2 separate regions of the Homo sapiens genome follow, and region 2 is linked to region 1. Evidence: fine-mapped expression QTL. A gene starts in region 1. The other region holds a variant in brackets. All regions are shown on one strand. Distances are from middle to middle.

Evidence for each region. PIP is the estimated chance that this variant, and not a neighbour inherited with it, causes the effect. A credible set is the group of variants that fine-mapping cannot tell apart.
Region 2: its variant is the best candidate, but not a certain one, in a credible set for the expression of TACC1 in naive CD4 T cells (Schmiedel 2018, PIP 0.65).

Annotation. Positions count from the first base shown.
Region 1 is chr8:38,783,893-38,792,229 of GRCh38, forward strand. TACC1 (transforming acidic coiled-coil containing protein 1) reads left to right here and starts at 3,344. Exons shown (of 13, transcript NM_006283.3): 1 at 3,344-3,851; 2 at 4,812-4,927. The coding sequence starts at 3,691. RefSeq lists an enhancer at 2,948-3,027 and a silencer at 3,068-3,607.
Region 2 is chr8:38,836,501-38,844,837 of GRCh38, forward strand. TACC1 (transforming acidic coiled-coil containing protein 1) reads left to right here. Exons shown (of 13, transcript NM_006283.3): 8 at 1,970-2,046; 9 at 3,724-3,767; 10 at 5,787-5,947; 11 at 6,789-6,895. Among named protein-coding and RNA genes, the nearest start is that of TACC1, 53 kb to the left of the region's middle. The variant T/TA (reference allele first, on the strand shown) is at 3,559.

The sequences.
Region 1 (8,337 bases):
TAATTAGGTAAATATCTGATCTTGCAAGGTTAAGACTGTCATGTTAACATATTTGAATGCGGTCAGATGCTGTTATTGGCAATGTTGTCTTGATTAGACATCATCATGCCCTTGCCTGGTTAGACTGAGGTAGGGCAGAAAAGCAGATAGGGTGGCCACAGCCTCCTGTTGGCAATGGCACGTCTTCACTGACAGGGCTAGAGTGTTCCTAGTTGTGACTTTGCAACCTGTACCAGGTAAGAACGAAGCCAGGACTAGGAGCAGCAGACTGAGAGGAGTGGTCCAGCTAATGGACTCATATTCATTACTGCTTACACTAAGTTCAAGAACTTGCAGAGGAGTGATTTTCAGAAACCTTAGGCATTTATTTGCTAGTCCAGTCTCAAGAAGTTGCTGCAGGCCGGGTGCGGTGGCTCACACCTATAATCCCAGAACTTTGGAAGTGGGTGGATCACCTGAGGTCAGGAGTTCAAGACCAGCCTGGCCAACATGATGAAACCCCGTCTCTACTAAAAAATAAAAAAATTAGCTGGGCATGGTGGCAGGAACCTGTAATCCCAGCTACTTGGGAGGCTGAGGCAGGGAGAATCGCTTGAACCCAGGAGGCGGAGGTTGCAGTCAGCTGAGACTGCACCACCGTGCTCCAGCCTGGGTGACAGAGTGAGACTCCATCTCAAAAAAAAAAAAAAGTAAATTGCTGCATAGGTGAGGCTTAATCTTACTGGGGCCATCACTTGGTCCTGGGTTCTGTTATTTTCTGGCCCAGAAACTAGATTTCCCCAGGGGGAGTCAGGCTTTAGGAATTTATGTCACCTTAGCCAAACTCACAAGGACTATTTGTAAACTAGAATGTTTGTTTTTTCTTACATATATATTGAACACCTACTGAGTGTGTGGTTCTGTCCTAATTTCTGGAGGAAGTCCCAAAGGGGGGTAAAGTCCCTTTAGAAGCTTGTGGGACAGATATGTAAATAAATATGTTATATATGGTGTGCTAAGTGTAGAATGGCCTTACATCCTGGTCTTCTGGAGACAGTCCTGGTTTATGCCTATAGTCCCTGTGTAACTATTAAGAATGCTGTCTTTCACTTTCAGATCTAAGGCCACAGGAAGTGTTCTTTATGGATGTTCGGGGTATAGAAATGATAGAAAGGAAGGACAATGAGCCTGCTTCCCCCTGTAGACACTTGAGCTAAGTGCTGAAGGACGTTCGAGCAGCTGAAGCCTGGGAACTTGGGGTGGGCTGGGGTGGGGGAGGAGGTGTGTTCCAGGAATTCGCAAAGCTCCCTCTGCAGGCAAAGGGAGACTGTTCCCGAAGCAGTAAGCAGTTGGTTCAAGCTAGGCACTGTTTCCCAAATTTACCCTGTGATAACAGTTCCCCAGGACACTTAGTGAACACACAGATTTCCAGACTCTGCTGGCAATTTGGATTTTTTTAAGAAGGCTGGCGGATGATTCTTGGGCATATTAAAGATTGACAACGAGTTCTCTACTCACTGTGGCTAGGAATACAAAAGGATGGGCATAGAGGGGAATGGGAACCGAAAGATTAGAGCACGAGTCACTGATCAGCCAGGCAGGGGTGACCTCAGGCAAGAAAACCTTCAGAGGTAAAACCAGGTGGGAGTTATTTACAGTAGATCATGAAAGATGGGGAGTGCGGGAACTATGTCAGTCACCACAGGGATGCAAAGGAATGAAAAGATAAGAGAACTATTCAGGAGGAAGAACAGGTCCTAGTGTATGCTAGTTACTGATTTGCTGGGGTAATATTATTTCCCAGAAACAGAACCCTGTGTCAAATCCAGGAGCCTGGGGGACTGTAGAACCTGAAGTTTTACTGGGTAAGCATAAACCTAAAACTACAACAGTTGGATAAGTGGTGTGATATATTTCACATGGACCTCCTGCCTAGTTCACTTCTTTATAGTCGCTAGAACACTCATGACAATTTATTTCTGGGAAGAAGCCAGGATGAATTCGAAAGCATCCTGACACCCCACCCCTTTCTTTTCTCTAGACTTCAGGTTAACTCCTGCCCTTCGGTTTTGGTAAAACTACCCTGCCAAGCCTTATCTTGTATTTTGCTCCTGTTTTTGTTATCAAATGTGTAAAACAGTCACGATGAATATACATGCCAACTGCTTTCAGAGGCAACGGTTAGTCTCTTGCAAGTTTCAACGTGCACATTTTGGAGCTGCTGTCTCTGTGGGAACCTGCAGGCACCTCATGGATGCACCACAACTCGGAAATTACAGTACCACCTGGAACACCTTATCCAGGCAAGGAGATCATTAAGCCTGGTGTTTGAGGCAATCGATTCACTTGGAAGAAGGTGCTTTGGTGGTTTTGAGAGGAACAATCCCTACATGAAATCCCTCCATGGGAAATGGAGAACATCAGCTATTTCCCATTGCCTTCAAACCTAAAGATGTCGCCAGGCCTCTTGGCTTGTTACTGAAGCAGCGAAATAAGTCAGAAATCAAAGACTTAGAAGTTACGAAAAGAAAATCTCAAAAAGGAGAATGGGGTCAGGCGCGGTGTCAGGCCTGGAATCCTAGCATTTTGGGAGGCAGAGGCGGGAGGATCGCTTGTGGCCAAGAGTTCAAGACCAGCCTGGGCAACATATCGAGACGCCTGTCTGTATTTTAAATAAATAAATATGGAGAATGGGAAACCCATCAGGCTGTAATCTCACAGGGAATTTAGTACCCTTTACCTAAGACAAGACCTGGGCACTTGGGAAGCCTCCCCGAGTGCGGTTTGGGGAGGGGGAGGGCATCTTAAATTCCAGTCCTCGGTCACTCTTGTGGCTTTGCCAAGGGATTTTCAAATCCCGGGAATGCCAGGGATGGAGATGAACAGGCTGAAATCCCCCACGCTGCCAGGGTTAGGGAGGGGAAAACAACAGTCCACAGCGGCCGCGAAGGTTTGTATTTTTTTTTTTTTGGTAACAAGGGGCTTGTGTGCAGTCCAATATCACCATCGCCGTGAAGTCACAGTGGCAAGATGAAAATGTTTAAAAAAATTTTAAAAAGGAATAAGGAAAGAGGAAGAGGACAGCGTGCCCCGGCTCAGAAAACGGTCCTCCTCTGCCCCGGACGCCGGCGGACCTGTGGGGTATGACCGAATCTCCCCGCGCAGCCGGCAAGCCCCGGCCCTCAGTCGGGCCGCGACCAGCGTGACGCCGCGGTAGGGGGATCCGGCGGGCGCGCGGCCGTCTTCAAAGCCCCGGCGCCGCCGCCGCCCCCGCGCGCGCGCGCGAGTAGTACGGTCCGAGGGGGCGGCTTCTGGGGCGCGGCTCCGGCGGCAGCTGATGCGCGCCCCGCCGGCCGGGAGGCGGGAGTCCGCGAGCCGGGAGCGGGAGCAGCAGAGGTCTAGCAGCCGGGCGCCGCGGGCCGGGGGCCTGAGGAGGCCACAGGACGGGCGTCTTCCCGGCTAGTGGAGCCCGGCGCGGGGCCCGCTGCGGCCGCACCGTGAGGGGAGGAGGCCGAGGAGGACGCAGCGCCGGCTGCCGGCGGGAGGAAGCGCTCCACCAGGGCCCCCGACGGCACTCGTTTAACCACATCCGCGCCTCTGCTGGAAACGCTTGCTGGCGCCTGTCACCGGTTCCCTCCATTTTGAAAGGGAAAAAGGCTCTCCCCACCCATTCCCCTGCCCCTAGGAGCTGGAGCCGGAGGAGCCGCGCTCATGGCGTTCAGCCCGTGGCAGATCCTGTCCCCCGTGCAGTGGGCGAAATGGACGTGGTCTGCGGTACGCGGCGGGGCCGCCGGCGAGGACGAGGCTGGCGGGCCCGAGGGCGACCCCGAGGAGGAGGATTCGCAAGCCGAGACCAAATCCTTGAGTTTCAGGCAAGTACACGGCGTCCCCGCTGAGATGCAGACGCGCTTGCCTCCATCCATCTGCGACTCCCTCTGTGTGCGTGTGTGTGGTCGCCACCCGCGAAACCGTCCTCACGGCCGTGCCGCGTCCCTGCCCGGAGCCGGGTCCCCGTGTGCGTCCGAAAGTTCAGGATCTTCTGTCCTCCCGTGGGGTTTCTGGCCCCCGTTTCGCTAGGAGAGTTCCGCACCCAACCCAGAATCTGCAGTCTCTCCGCATCCCCGCTGGCCTCGGTCACTTTCTCTAAGCTTCGACCCCCAGCCCCCGCCCCTCCACACTGGAGCAACGTCACTGATCTAACCCAGTGCAACTTAGGGCCCCCCCGTGGGGAAGAAGTCGCTCCCCGGCCCTTCCCGGGGCCCTACCGTGTACCCAAAACGCAGCCGCGGTGAAGAAGGTCGCGTGATGACAGGCCCCTGGCAGCTGCTGGGAAATGGTGGTCTCTGCCGGGCTGTCATCCGCGTGATTGCGGAAGGCAGGTGACACCATTCTTAGCCTCGGGCCCAGGGAGTTCCAGCAGGTAGAGGCCTACCGAGCAAAGAGGAATGCCTAGCATCGGCCTAACTCGGGGGTGGGACCAGTATTAATTGTTAAAGCCTCTGGGAAAGGGCTCTTGTGACAAAAGGAGTCTGTTGGAAAAGCGCATTTTTCAGGTGTCTGAGGGAAGGATGACCTCGAAAATAAATGGTGCTGGAGAAAAGCTCCAGGGAATGGAGGAGCTTTCAGAGAGACAGGATGCCAGCCTGAGAAACCCAAGGAGGGCACTGCTCAGAGACCGCAGTTGCCTCCCGCAGGTCAGACCCTGCTGAGGACCGGTTGGTTGTGAAGTTAGACAAAAGTGCTGGACTTTTAGCCTCTGTGAATATGTAGATTTCAAAGGGTGTCGGAAATACCGTTGAAAGTGGTAATTCCTCATTTTTCCTCCTTGGCAGCTCGGATTCTGAAGGTAATTTTGAGACTCCTGAAGCTGAAACCCCGATCCGATCACCTTTCAAGGAGTCCTGTGATCCATCACTCGGATTGGCAGGACCTGGGGCCAAAAGCCAAGGTAAAGAAAAACTTGCATTTTTCCTGCCTGTTTTGTTTCAAAAGTTTTGAAAAATATCAATGAAGGAAGGAAAAAAGTGTAAATTTAGGACCATTTAAGAGAGTTTGACTAAGAAAGAGCTGTTTGAAACCTCCTGGCTTATGTATTTTTAGGGGTGTGGTGATCGAGGCTTTCTCCTCTGAGTAGAGTTTGTGCATTTGCAGTATAAGATTATCATTATCAAACATTCCTACTAGGCCTTTCTCCTCAGCCCCTAAAAAAATATGTATAGTAATGAAGTAGGAAGATCATGTTTATATTTGACTTCACAAATTCCTCAGGCTAAGTTGCTTTCTACTGGGGTGTGGCTGGAGACAAAAATTACAGGTAAGACTTGACTTAATTTTTGATAGGGAGGTTCTTAAGAGGCTTTTTCGGAATCACTCACCTCGCCCACTTCCATGCAGGGATGTGGTGAGAGCCCTTCAGTCTACTTAGGAAAACCTGGCACATGGATTCCCTCCCAGCCCCTCAGAGCCCAGCCCTTCATCTGCAGGAGCTTCCGTTGTCTCACTTAATTAGTAGAAACCTTTTTTGTCACACAGCCAGTTCAGAATAAAATTTCACCTATCCCAACAGAATTCATATGCTTATTTACTAAATAGAGTGCACTGTGATTCAGCAGTGAAGTCCTGCTCTCTCGAGCTAACATTGTGGAGGGAGAACCTGTGAAGGGTTAAGCAAAATATCTATGTCAGCTTGTGTGAAGCACTGTGGAGAAAAATAAAGCAGGGGAAGAGAATAGGGAATATGGAGTGGGGATAGGGAAGGCTGAAGGGGAGTTAGTGGGGGCATTCATGATTAGGTGACTTGAACAGAGACCTGAAGGCAGATTGAGGGAGCAGGCCTTGGAGGTTCCTGAGGTGGGAACCCTTCCAGCAGAAGGAGTGGCATCTGCAAAGGTCTGACAGCACCAGCCTGCTGCAGGGAGGCCGTAAGGTGGAGGGTTCATGGTACAGTTTGAGGACCAGCCAGGAGGTCAGTGTGGACTGACTACTCAGAGAGCAGGAGGAGCTGAAGTCAGCGTGGTCAGAGGAGGTCCAGATGCTGCTGCAGTGAGGATTTGGTTTTCAGTAAGGTGGAAAGCCACTGGAGGGCATATGCATTTCCAAGGGCTGCCATAACAGAGTAACTTAGCGGCTTACAATAACAGAAATTATTCTCTCACAGTCCTGGATAATTGAAATCAGAACCAGAAGTCTCAAGTCAAGGTGTTGGCAGGGCCTTGCTCTTCTGAAGGCTCCAGGAAGTCTGTCCTTGCCTCTTCTAGCCTCTGCTGGGTGTCTGCAATCCTTTGTGTTCTTTGGCTTGTGGCAGCAGAACTCCAGTCTCTGTCTCAACACATGGCCATCTTCTCCCTATGTATCTGTCTTACCGTGCCCTTCCTGTGAGGACACCAGTCGTTGAAGTTAGGGCCCACCCTAATCCAGTTTGACCTCATCTTAACTTGGTAACATCTTCAGAGATACTATTTCTAGATAAGGTCACATTCATAGGTACTAGGAGTTGGGACTTTAACATATCATTTTGAGAGACATAATTCAGCCCACAACAGAGAGCTTTGAACAGAGGGATTGTGATTCAGCTTCTTTTGTAAAAGGCTCCCTGGGCTGCTGTGTGGAGAAGGGACTCTAGGATGGAAGTCCTTTTTATGTGGTTTCTCTGTTCCAGTATCTGGCACTGTCACCCTGAAGTGGCAGCGCCAGCTTTCAGTTATCTAGCTACCTAAACTTTGTGCTGATTGTGACTTTCTCCTCTCCCTAATAAGTATTTTTATTGCTTAGCAACTTCTTCGTAGGTTGCCTAGGGAAGTCAAGTTACTCTGGTAATAGACTGCATGATGGAGCTGGAATTATTGGTAAAATGACATCAGCAAAAAGCTGATTTGGTTTTGCTTTAAATTGATAGCTCCATGCTGTGCTTACCCAGCTGAGAATTCAGCAATACCCTCAACTTGCCCTAGGCTGCATTTTGCCATTGTTCTAGGCAGGGACAACATGGGAATAGGCAAGCTTATATACTGGAGAATTTGTGTGCGACGCATAGCTGTGTAGCACTCTCAGTGATGAAGATAACACTTATTCCTCATAGCTTCCCTTTTCTTCCGTAAAGATTGGCAGATCAGAAGGGAGATTTTGAAGCTTGAAAGAACTATTTGGTGGCCTTTCCATCAAATTTAAATAAAGCTCATAAGACACATGTTAAGGAGCTGTTTGAAAGCCTTTTTGAATTGCCATCAGCTTGGGCGGCCCTTCCTCATCGTTTTGTCAGCTGCTAGACTGATTCATCCCGCCAGATTCTTTGCCAATTGAATAGAGGCCTGGATGACCTAGGCCCCCAAAACCACAGAGACCCAATTGTTTGGTCCTTCCTGTACCAGTGACTCTCACATTTTTTTCATTCTCTCTAAAAGGAAAACTTTTAAATGTTTATGGATCATGAAGGCTCTATGGGGTAGTTCATGAATGCAGACTGTAATTGTAGGGGTAGAGGAGTGTCCAGTCCAGGAAACAACCCTGCATATTATGAAGGCTTTCAGTTTAGGGTCTTTAAACAATAGGATGATTGCTCATCAACCTGGTCGTACCCTGACTTCCAGGGTCCTTGGGTGCAACATCCGGAGCTAGTCCAGAGTACCGCCAATGGCCTTGTCACACATACACAGCAAATGTGCAAAGACAGCCAGAGCACAGGTCTGCCTGGAGAGGATTTCAGTGGGCAGAAAGCCCTTCAGAGTCATTTCATATTGAAGTTTAATTTCTGGGACTGGATAAGTTCCCTTTCTCCCAAAATTATTGATTGTTTTGTTCCTGGTAAAGATAGTCTTTCATACTTTTGTGGTTCCAAGACATGGTTGGACCGCAGTTATAAATTATATAAGACTAAATCATTCTGGAAGAATGATTTACGAGGAGTTAGTCAGGAGTTGGAGTTGAAATATGTAAACATTCTGGCTTCCTGGTACATAATGGCCCTCAAACGTGTGGGCTACATTTACCATACCCATGGCTCCTGTGCTGACTTCTGTATAGTTCTTTGAACTCAGGGAAACATCTAAGACTATTTTGAAATGACTTTTCTTATACTGGAACTGCTTTAGGAACTTGCAGTATCTAAACTCTATAATGACTCTTCCTAAGAGTTGTATGCCAGGAGTTAAGTGGCGGATAAGGTTGTAGATTTTTTTTGAAGCCACATATAGAAGCAGGTTTTAGGCTTACTGGTAAAATAAAACTCTAGCTAAAGATATTTCCTGGAAATAACCAGACTGGTAGCTGTAAAGCTTGGGCTGGTCTGTATTTGCTATCTGTCTGTTTTCTCCCACTAAAGTTGTTTAATGCTGCTGCTGTTGTGGTGGTCTTTCTCTTTGC
Region 2 (8,337 bases), 53 kb after region 1:
ATTCTTAAGAATTTTGTACCCTTCTTTATCTTTCAGCCCTGACATTTAAAATACCTAATTTTGCCAGCTTTGCTCCCATGTGTAACTAAATCAGTGCTTTTATTTTACAGAGGATATATGCTAATGCCTAAAAACATTTGTAATTTTTTTGCAGTAATACACAGTTGTTTCCTACTTTCATCCATTCTTTAAACCGTTCAACTCTCCGATTCCTGTATTGTGTTTCTTGAACAGCCTTTGTTCAAAATAGATCACTGCTAGGCCTTTCCTGGTTATCTGAAAAATACGAAAGACACTGTTGTGTACCATTAATAAGTTGCCCACCCTCTCCTGTCATATATCTATGCTGTATTTTGTGTGTTTGTTTTGTGTGTTTCTTGACAATTCCACCTGTTCTTAAAGGAAGGTGTGGCAATTTTATTTTTATAGTTTTTAGTTTTATAGTTTTTTTTAGTTTTAATTTTTATAGTATGCTGAAAGTGGTTAAGCACCTCAGCTGTAGGTCTTTTACAGCTTTCTAAAATAGCATCAAGTTGGTAATGAGGGATGTCAGCTAGTCCTGTTTTCAAAACTTGGGAGCAGTGGTAATAAGGCCCACCAAAATCTTTTTTTTTTTTTTTTTTTGAGATAAAATCTTGGCGCAGTAGCTCATGCCTGTAATCCCAGTGCTTTGGGAGGCCAAGGCGGGCGGATCACCTGAGTTCAGGAATTCGAGACCAGACTGACCAACGTGGAGAAACCCCATCTCTACTAAAAAAAAAAAAAATACAAAATTAGCTGGGCGTGGTGGTGCATGCCTGTAATCCCAGCTACTTGGGAGGCTGAGGTGGGAGAATCGCTTGAACCTGGGAGACGAAGGTTGTGGTGAGCCGAGATCGCACCATTGCACTCCAACCTGGGCAACAAGAGCGAAACTCCATCTCAGAAAAATAAAAATAAAATAAAAGACAAGATCTCACTCTGTCACCCAGGCTGAGTGCAGTGGCACAATTATAGCTCATTGCAGCCTCGAACTCCTAGGGTCAAGCGATCCTCTTGCCTCAGCTGCCTGAGTAGCTGGGACTGCAAGCACGCACCACTGTCCCTGGCCAAAATCTTGTAAATGAGAAAAATGACTTGATGTTTTTCCTGGGAGTTAAACTATGAGATCACCACCTAATGGATCAAAGTAAAGAGGTGCCTGATTACCTGAAGCACACAGGATACATCCTTCTATGTTCTTGAGATCCTAATAAATATAATGAAACTACCAATTAGGAAGAGAGCGGCACGGCCAGGGAAGTACAGTAAGAGGCTGCCCATGCAAGCCCAGCCCAGGGCAAATAGAGTTTGAGGCAATGAATTTAGAGTATTTCCTTCCAGTTAGCAAGAGCATCCCAAATATGAGCCTAGGTTCCAGGCTAACTAGCAAGACTCTACCCATAAGTGACGGATGCTATAGCTAGATGTAGCCAGCTCATCTGAGCCCCCTCCTTCTGACTCCATTTCTATGAAGCTGTCAGAAATCTCTATAGAAAGAGAATGTGTTGCTCATGCCAACTTCCAGTGGTCTGACTTTGTGGCAGTTTCACTCTGGTGGCCTGGCATCAGCCGTGATTACATGGCCTTAGTTAAGAGTGAATACCTGCCAATCAGATGGCTCTGTTCTTGGTGTCTGTCCCAGTCAGGGCCTGGCCCTGCAGAGCTGAGAGCTAGACCCTGGACCAAGGTAAAGTTCACAGAGGCTGTAAATACTACTTGGGATTTCTGAGAGATGTTCTACTCATCTTTATTCCCGTGTCTGCATCCCAGCATTCAGTGTGGCTTAGAATACACTTTTCCAAATGGTTACAAACATTTAATATTGAAGTTTATATTTCTAATATAGATTGAACATCTTGGGTTAGACCTGGTTGTGTGCTATTTCAGTTCCCAGTCTTAAATGCAAATTGTAATAGATTGGGTAAAACTAAGCTTTATTGTACTCTAGATAATTACTAAAGAGATTGAAGCAAATGAATGGAAGAAGAAATACGAAGAGACCCGGCAAGAAGTTTTGGAGATGAGGTTAGACTGGAGGTTTTGGGGAGGGGCTGGATACTTTTATGCACTGTTAGATTTGATACAGATGAAGTGATGACAGTGTTTGCTTGCCACAGAACCAAGTGTTGAGAGCTTGAGGGCTTTGCTGTTTGCACCTTGCTTTGTGATTGAGAATGTTATTTCAGGAGTTATTGCTAACCAGTTATTATATTCAAATACTGTAGTTTATCTTGGGTTGTTCAGAACATATAACATGTAAACAGAACCCACATAATTCTTATCTTCTTAGAACTGACAGAAATTTGTATCAAAATATCCATTTGGAATACAGAAAAATAAGATTTATCCAATGATAGAGACACTGAAATTCATAATACTACTTTTTTTTTTTTGAGGCAGGGTCTCACTCTGTCATCCAGGCTGGAGTGCAGTGGTGTGATCATGGCTCACTGCAGCCTCAACCTCCTGGGATCAACTGATCCTCTCCCCTCTGCCTCCCAAGTAGCTGGGACCACAGGCATGTGCCACCATGCCTGCATAATTTTTTTTAGAGATGAGGTCTCGCTCTGTTGCCCAGGCTGGTTTGTAACTCCTGAGCTCAAGCAATGCACCTGCCTCAGCCTCCCAAAGTGCTGGGATTGCAGGCATGAGCCACAGCGCCTGGTCCATAATACTTTTTAAAAATTAATTATGCATGAGAGTTTCAAATTACATAACCACCAAATAGATGATAGAAAGCTTGTTAACAAGAAACAAAATTGATTGACTTGAAATCGAAATCTTTTTATTTTTCCTCACTTTTAGAAAGGAGAGTTATGAGCCATGAAATGACTAAAGATGAAATCAAAGTAGAGAAGAAAAAAAGGCATAAATAATTCACACACAGTGTGGTCAACACTTGAATGATTAAAAAACATTTTAAGTATATCCCTCTAATTTGTTGCTCTTTTATTATTTGTCTTTTAAGCATTTCCTAGGTGTAAGGCCCTTTGCTGGGCTTGATGGAAAGGAAGGGACATTCCTGCTCTTAGAGAGCGGTAGCCATCCATAATAACCAACTTGGATATGACGTCAAAAGTGATGGGGGCACCACCATTGAGGGCAGGGGAGGACGTGATGCGACTCACAGAGCACCCAGCACCGGACTGGGTCAGAAGGACATTGTCATTCTTCACTAGAAGAAAGGTTAACCCAAGAGGTTGATCTTTAAAGTCTTTGAATAAGTGAAATACTTTTGGAATTAGGACACAAAATAAAACTTGTCACTGAATCAGAGGTAGAGTGTCTGAAAGGGTGGATTGACTCAGGAAAGTCTAAAGTCAGATCGCATCTGTTAGGAAGAGCCCAGAAGAATATCTTTAACTTAGTTTGTAAAAGATTGACTCATCTAAGCAGAATGAATCTATTTCCTTGCAGTATTCAAATAGGTGCAAAGAGAAAGGGAAGGCAGTTGGTTCTATAAGTAAAATATAAGTTTGACTAAAGATAAAATCTTAACAAAAACCTTTTTAGAACCTTAAGAAACCTTATATAATG[T/TA]AAAAAAAAAAAAAAAAAAAAGATAACGAGAGCCCCAAAGCAGATAAATGGATTACATACATTGTCAGTGTATGTTAATGTGTTTAATTGTTTGGGACAGCATTTCTCCAACTTTCATTGTCTGAAAATCCTCCTCTGGTAATAAGTTCTTTTTTTCTCATTTAGGAAAATTGTAGCTGAATATGAAAAGACTATTGCTCAAATGATTGGTAAGGAGAACATTTTGTTTTTTGAGGGTATGAGCCATAGGATCTGTCTTAGTCTGTTCAGCCTGGTATAACAAAATATGTAAGCTAGGTAGCTTATAAACAACAAACATTTTTCATAGCTCTGGAGACAGGAGAGTTCAAGGTGCCCACAGATGAGATGTCTGGGGAGGGCCCATTCCTCATAGAAGGGGCTGGCTAGCTCTCTGGGGTCTCTTTTATAAGGACACTAATCCTGACATAATCACCTCCCAAATTCCCTTCCATGCCCACTTTCACCCTGAACATACTCACACACTGGGGATTAGGTTTCAATACACAAATTTGGGGTTGGGGGGTGGCATAAACTATAAGACCATAGCCGGATCCATTTATGATTTTCAGACCATGTCACAAACTTGTATTTGTCTGTCACTTAGATACAGTCGTCTCATTATTCGTGGGAGGTATGTTCTGTAAAGTTGCTGCAAACACTGAGTTAGTGAATACTAAACACTGCTCCTGGCCTGGCATGGTGTCTCACGCCTGTAATCCCAGCACTTTGGGAGGCTTGGGTAGGTGGATCACCTGAGGTTGAGAGTTCGAAAACAGCCTGACCAACATGGAGAAACCCCGTCTCTACTAATAATACAAAATTAGCTGGGCGTGGTGGTGCATGCCTGTAATCCCAGCTACTCGGGAGGCTGAGGCAGGAGAATCGCTTGAACCTGGGAGGCGGAAGTTATGGTGAGCCGAGATCGTGCCACTGCACTCCAGCCTGGGCAATGAGCAAAATTCCATCTCAAAAAATAAATAAGTAAATAAACACTGCTCCTAGGGAAAAGACAGAGTTAGAGTCTTGCATCTGGCCACAACATTTTCATTGATTGATCAGTATATAACCTTGTTTTACGTGTGTTCCTGTTTAAAGACACCTTATTTAATATATATAGTTGATTCATTAACATTGAGCTCACAGTCAGCGGCACTTTGGCTCACGTCTGAACAGAGCTTCTGTAATGTATGTATTTTAAGGAACCTTACTGCCTTCTTGTGCTTGGTATCACTAGACAGCACTGTGGCACTGCCCTTGGAGGCCACTTAAAACAGTGAAGTCTCCGGCAAAAAGAACACAAGTGCAACAAACATGGCCTGAATAGACCAAAAGAAGAACACTTGTTTATAGAATGAATCAAGAAGGCAGAGTATTGCTTTGTTCACTGTCAGCTGAGAGCGTGCATATCAGGTGACTAAAGCATTTTTGCACTCTGCACACATCCACAAATGACTGTCAAAGTCCAGGAGGATAGATTTTAGGATTACAAATAAATTTTAGCAAGTAGGTGAATTGGGAGGTATGGACTTGGTGAATAATGAGGGTCAACTGTAGTTAGGTTCATTTTAGAAGATGGCAGGCCTTGAATTCTGTGACTGTTGGTGGCCTGGTCACATCACTAACACCCACTGGGAGCATCCTGTGTTTTGGTGCAGGGTTCTTACTCTAGTGCAGATTGTAATTTCTCTGCATCAGACCCAGCGGTGCCTTTACAAAACAACAGGGATTGATCCTCCTGCATGGAATTTAGAGTCTCTTCTCATCTATATCATAAGGATTGACTCCCTAAACCAGAGTCTGTCCTTTCTCCACTAAATTGCCGAAATGATACTTTCTATCATCCACATCACCTAATGCCTTCCCAGCTCAGGGCCTTACCACAGCTGTTCTTCTCTATGGAATATTCTCCCAGGTAGCTGTATGGCTCACATCCTCATTTCTGTCCGGTCTATGCTCAGATCTCTCCCTGAGAGCAGGTACTCTCTGTACAGTAACAGCCCCCTCCCCGCCCCCATTCCTCCTTACCCTGCCTTGTTCTTTCCCCATCACTTGTTACCACGCGTCTCCCCCAACTAGAGTATAAGCCATAAGAGCGGGAATTTGGTCACATCCCCGGCTGTGTCCCTACCACGAGAACACTGCTTGTCTTCTAAGGAGTGTCTATTTTTTGAATAAATATGTCATTCCTTTTGACTTGTGATTCCCAGAAGATGAACAAAGGACAAGTATGACCTCTCAGAAGAGCTTCCAGCAACTGACCATGGAGAAGGAACAGGCCCTGGCTGACCTTAACTCTGTGGAAAGGTCCCTTTCTGATCTCTTCAGGAGATATGAGAACCTGAAAGGTGTTCTGGAAGGGTTCAAGAAGGTAGAGTGTTTTTTCCCTCTGTCTCCTGGTGTATTTCCAGTAGTGTATTTCCTTGGTAACTGGTCATCAAATACATATGCCAGAGGTTGTGGGTATCCTTTTAAATAGGAGCTCAGGGCCTACTGGCCTTGTATCCTCTATTCCAGTGAAGCTGGATTTTTTTCCACATTTTTCCTTCTTTGGTTGTTCAGGCATCTGGCCCACTGGGTGCCATGTCTTGGCCATTCCTCTCCTGTGTCAAGCCAATAAGCCCCAGGCTGTGGCGTAGACTGCAAGAACTGTTAATTGAACCCTCAGACCTCAGGTGAATTCTAGAAATGTTCTTTCTGGTAATTCACCTTTTCAGTTTTAGTAAAAGGGATTAGAAGGAATTCCATGTCTCTGAAAAATTCAAGCTGCATATTCTAGAAGACATTAGTATAATGTTTCAAATTTAGATGTAAATGGGCCTGTTGATTTAATTTAACTTTACCATATCAACCAGACACAATTATAGCAATGAAATGGCTTTATTTTCATATTAAAATAAAAATGAAACTGGCCAGTTTATCAAATATGGAAATCGAATTGCCATTCAGTTTTGAATAACTGCCTTCCTAAAGTAGGCATATTGGTATAACTGACCCTTACTGTATGATATTGAAAATTAACACATGAAGACATTATGTAGAATTTCCTCAGTGAGAATTACATGTGGCTATTTCAAATTACTGCAGAGTATGAATAAAAGCCATCTGAATTAATTAGATTTTTCCATTCTTTAAAAAATGAAAACTCTGATATGTGGTAGATTAGAAGAAACAAAATGACCTGTTTATTTTCAATTTTTGCTTTGGAACAGAATGAAGAAGCCTTGAAGAAATGTGCTCAGGATTACTTAGCCAGAGTTAAACAAGAGGAGCAGCGATACCAGGCCCTGAAAATCCACGCAGAAGAGAAACTGGACAAGTAAGAGCTTGTAAATGTTGAATTTCACTCTTCATGATGTTGTGGGAAGATTGAGAGAGGAAAACAAAATCACTGTTTCGCAACTCCAGGTTGTATTTTTATGTGTGTGTTTATTTCACTTTTTAAACCCTTTTCCCATTGTTAAAACATTAAAAAGTAAAAAAAGGTATATCTGCTCCTGCCTCCTTCCACTGGGTTCCCATCTTTCTCTATGCCAGGTAATCACCATTGTTGGTTTCTGTTTTTTCTTCCTATTACAATTTTTTTCTTTTTTATATGATTATAGCATACTTCGCTATTTTTGCTTAGCAATATAATTTTGAGAATCTTTCCATGTCAGTGCAAGAAGAGCTTCCTCTTTTTTTTCTAATAGCCACATGGTATTCCATTGTTGGAATGTATCATTTATTTAACAATCCCCTCCTGTTAGACATTAAAGTTAATTCAAATGTCTTGCTGCCACAGACAGTGCTGTAATAAGTGACCTGGTAGGTGATCGTTTTGCATGCCTGTGAGTTATCTTTATGATCTGTATGTTAGAAAAGGAATTGCTAGACCAAAGCATATATGAATTTATAATTATAAGTGTTGTCAGATTGGCCCCATTAGACTTTTATCATTTGATAGCCCTAGATAATATATGAGAGCATCTCTTTTTTCTACAACTGTGCCAATAGGTCAACGTTTTTATTTTCTGCAAATCAAATAGGTGAAAATGGTATTTCAACATAGGTATTTGTTTTTGGCAAGCAACAGAGCATTTATTTATTTATTTTATTATTATTATTATTTTTTGAGACGGAGTTTCTCTCTGTCACCCAGGCTGGAGTGGAGCGGTGCAATCTAGGCTCACTGCAACCTCAGTCTCCCGGGTTCAAGTGATTCTCCTGCCTCAGCCTCCCAAGTAGCTTGGATTACAGGCACACGCCACCACACCCGGCTAATTTTTTGTATTTTTAGTAGAGACAGGGTTTCACCATGTTGGCCAGGCTGGTCTGGAACTCCTGACCTCAGGTGATCCGCCCGCCTCAGCTTCCCAAAGTGCTGGGATTACAGGTGTGAGCCACCGCGCCCAGCCCCAGAGCATTTATTTTAATCAATGTAATTTTGATTTGCATCTATCTTATGAATGAAATTGAATATATTTCACCATTCATTTATTAATATATTTGCTTTACTATGAATTACTCTATTCTTTGCCCATTTTCCTATTGTCATTTTATAGATTTTATATATTAGGGACACCAGCCCTTTGTGATAAGAATTTTGAATAATTTTTCAAGTTTATCATTTGTCTTTTGCGTCCACCTATAGTGTTTTTTGATATTCAGAAATTTACTTTTATGTGCTGAAATGTATTAGTCATTTCTTTTACAGCTTCTGGATTCTTTGTCATAGTAACAAAGATCTTCCCCATGCTGGATAGAAAATATTCTCCCATG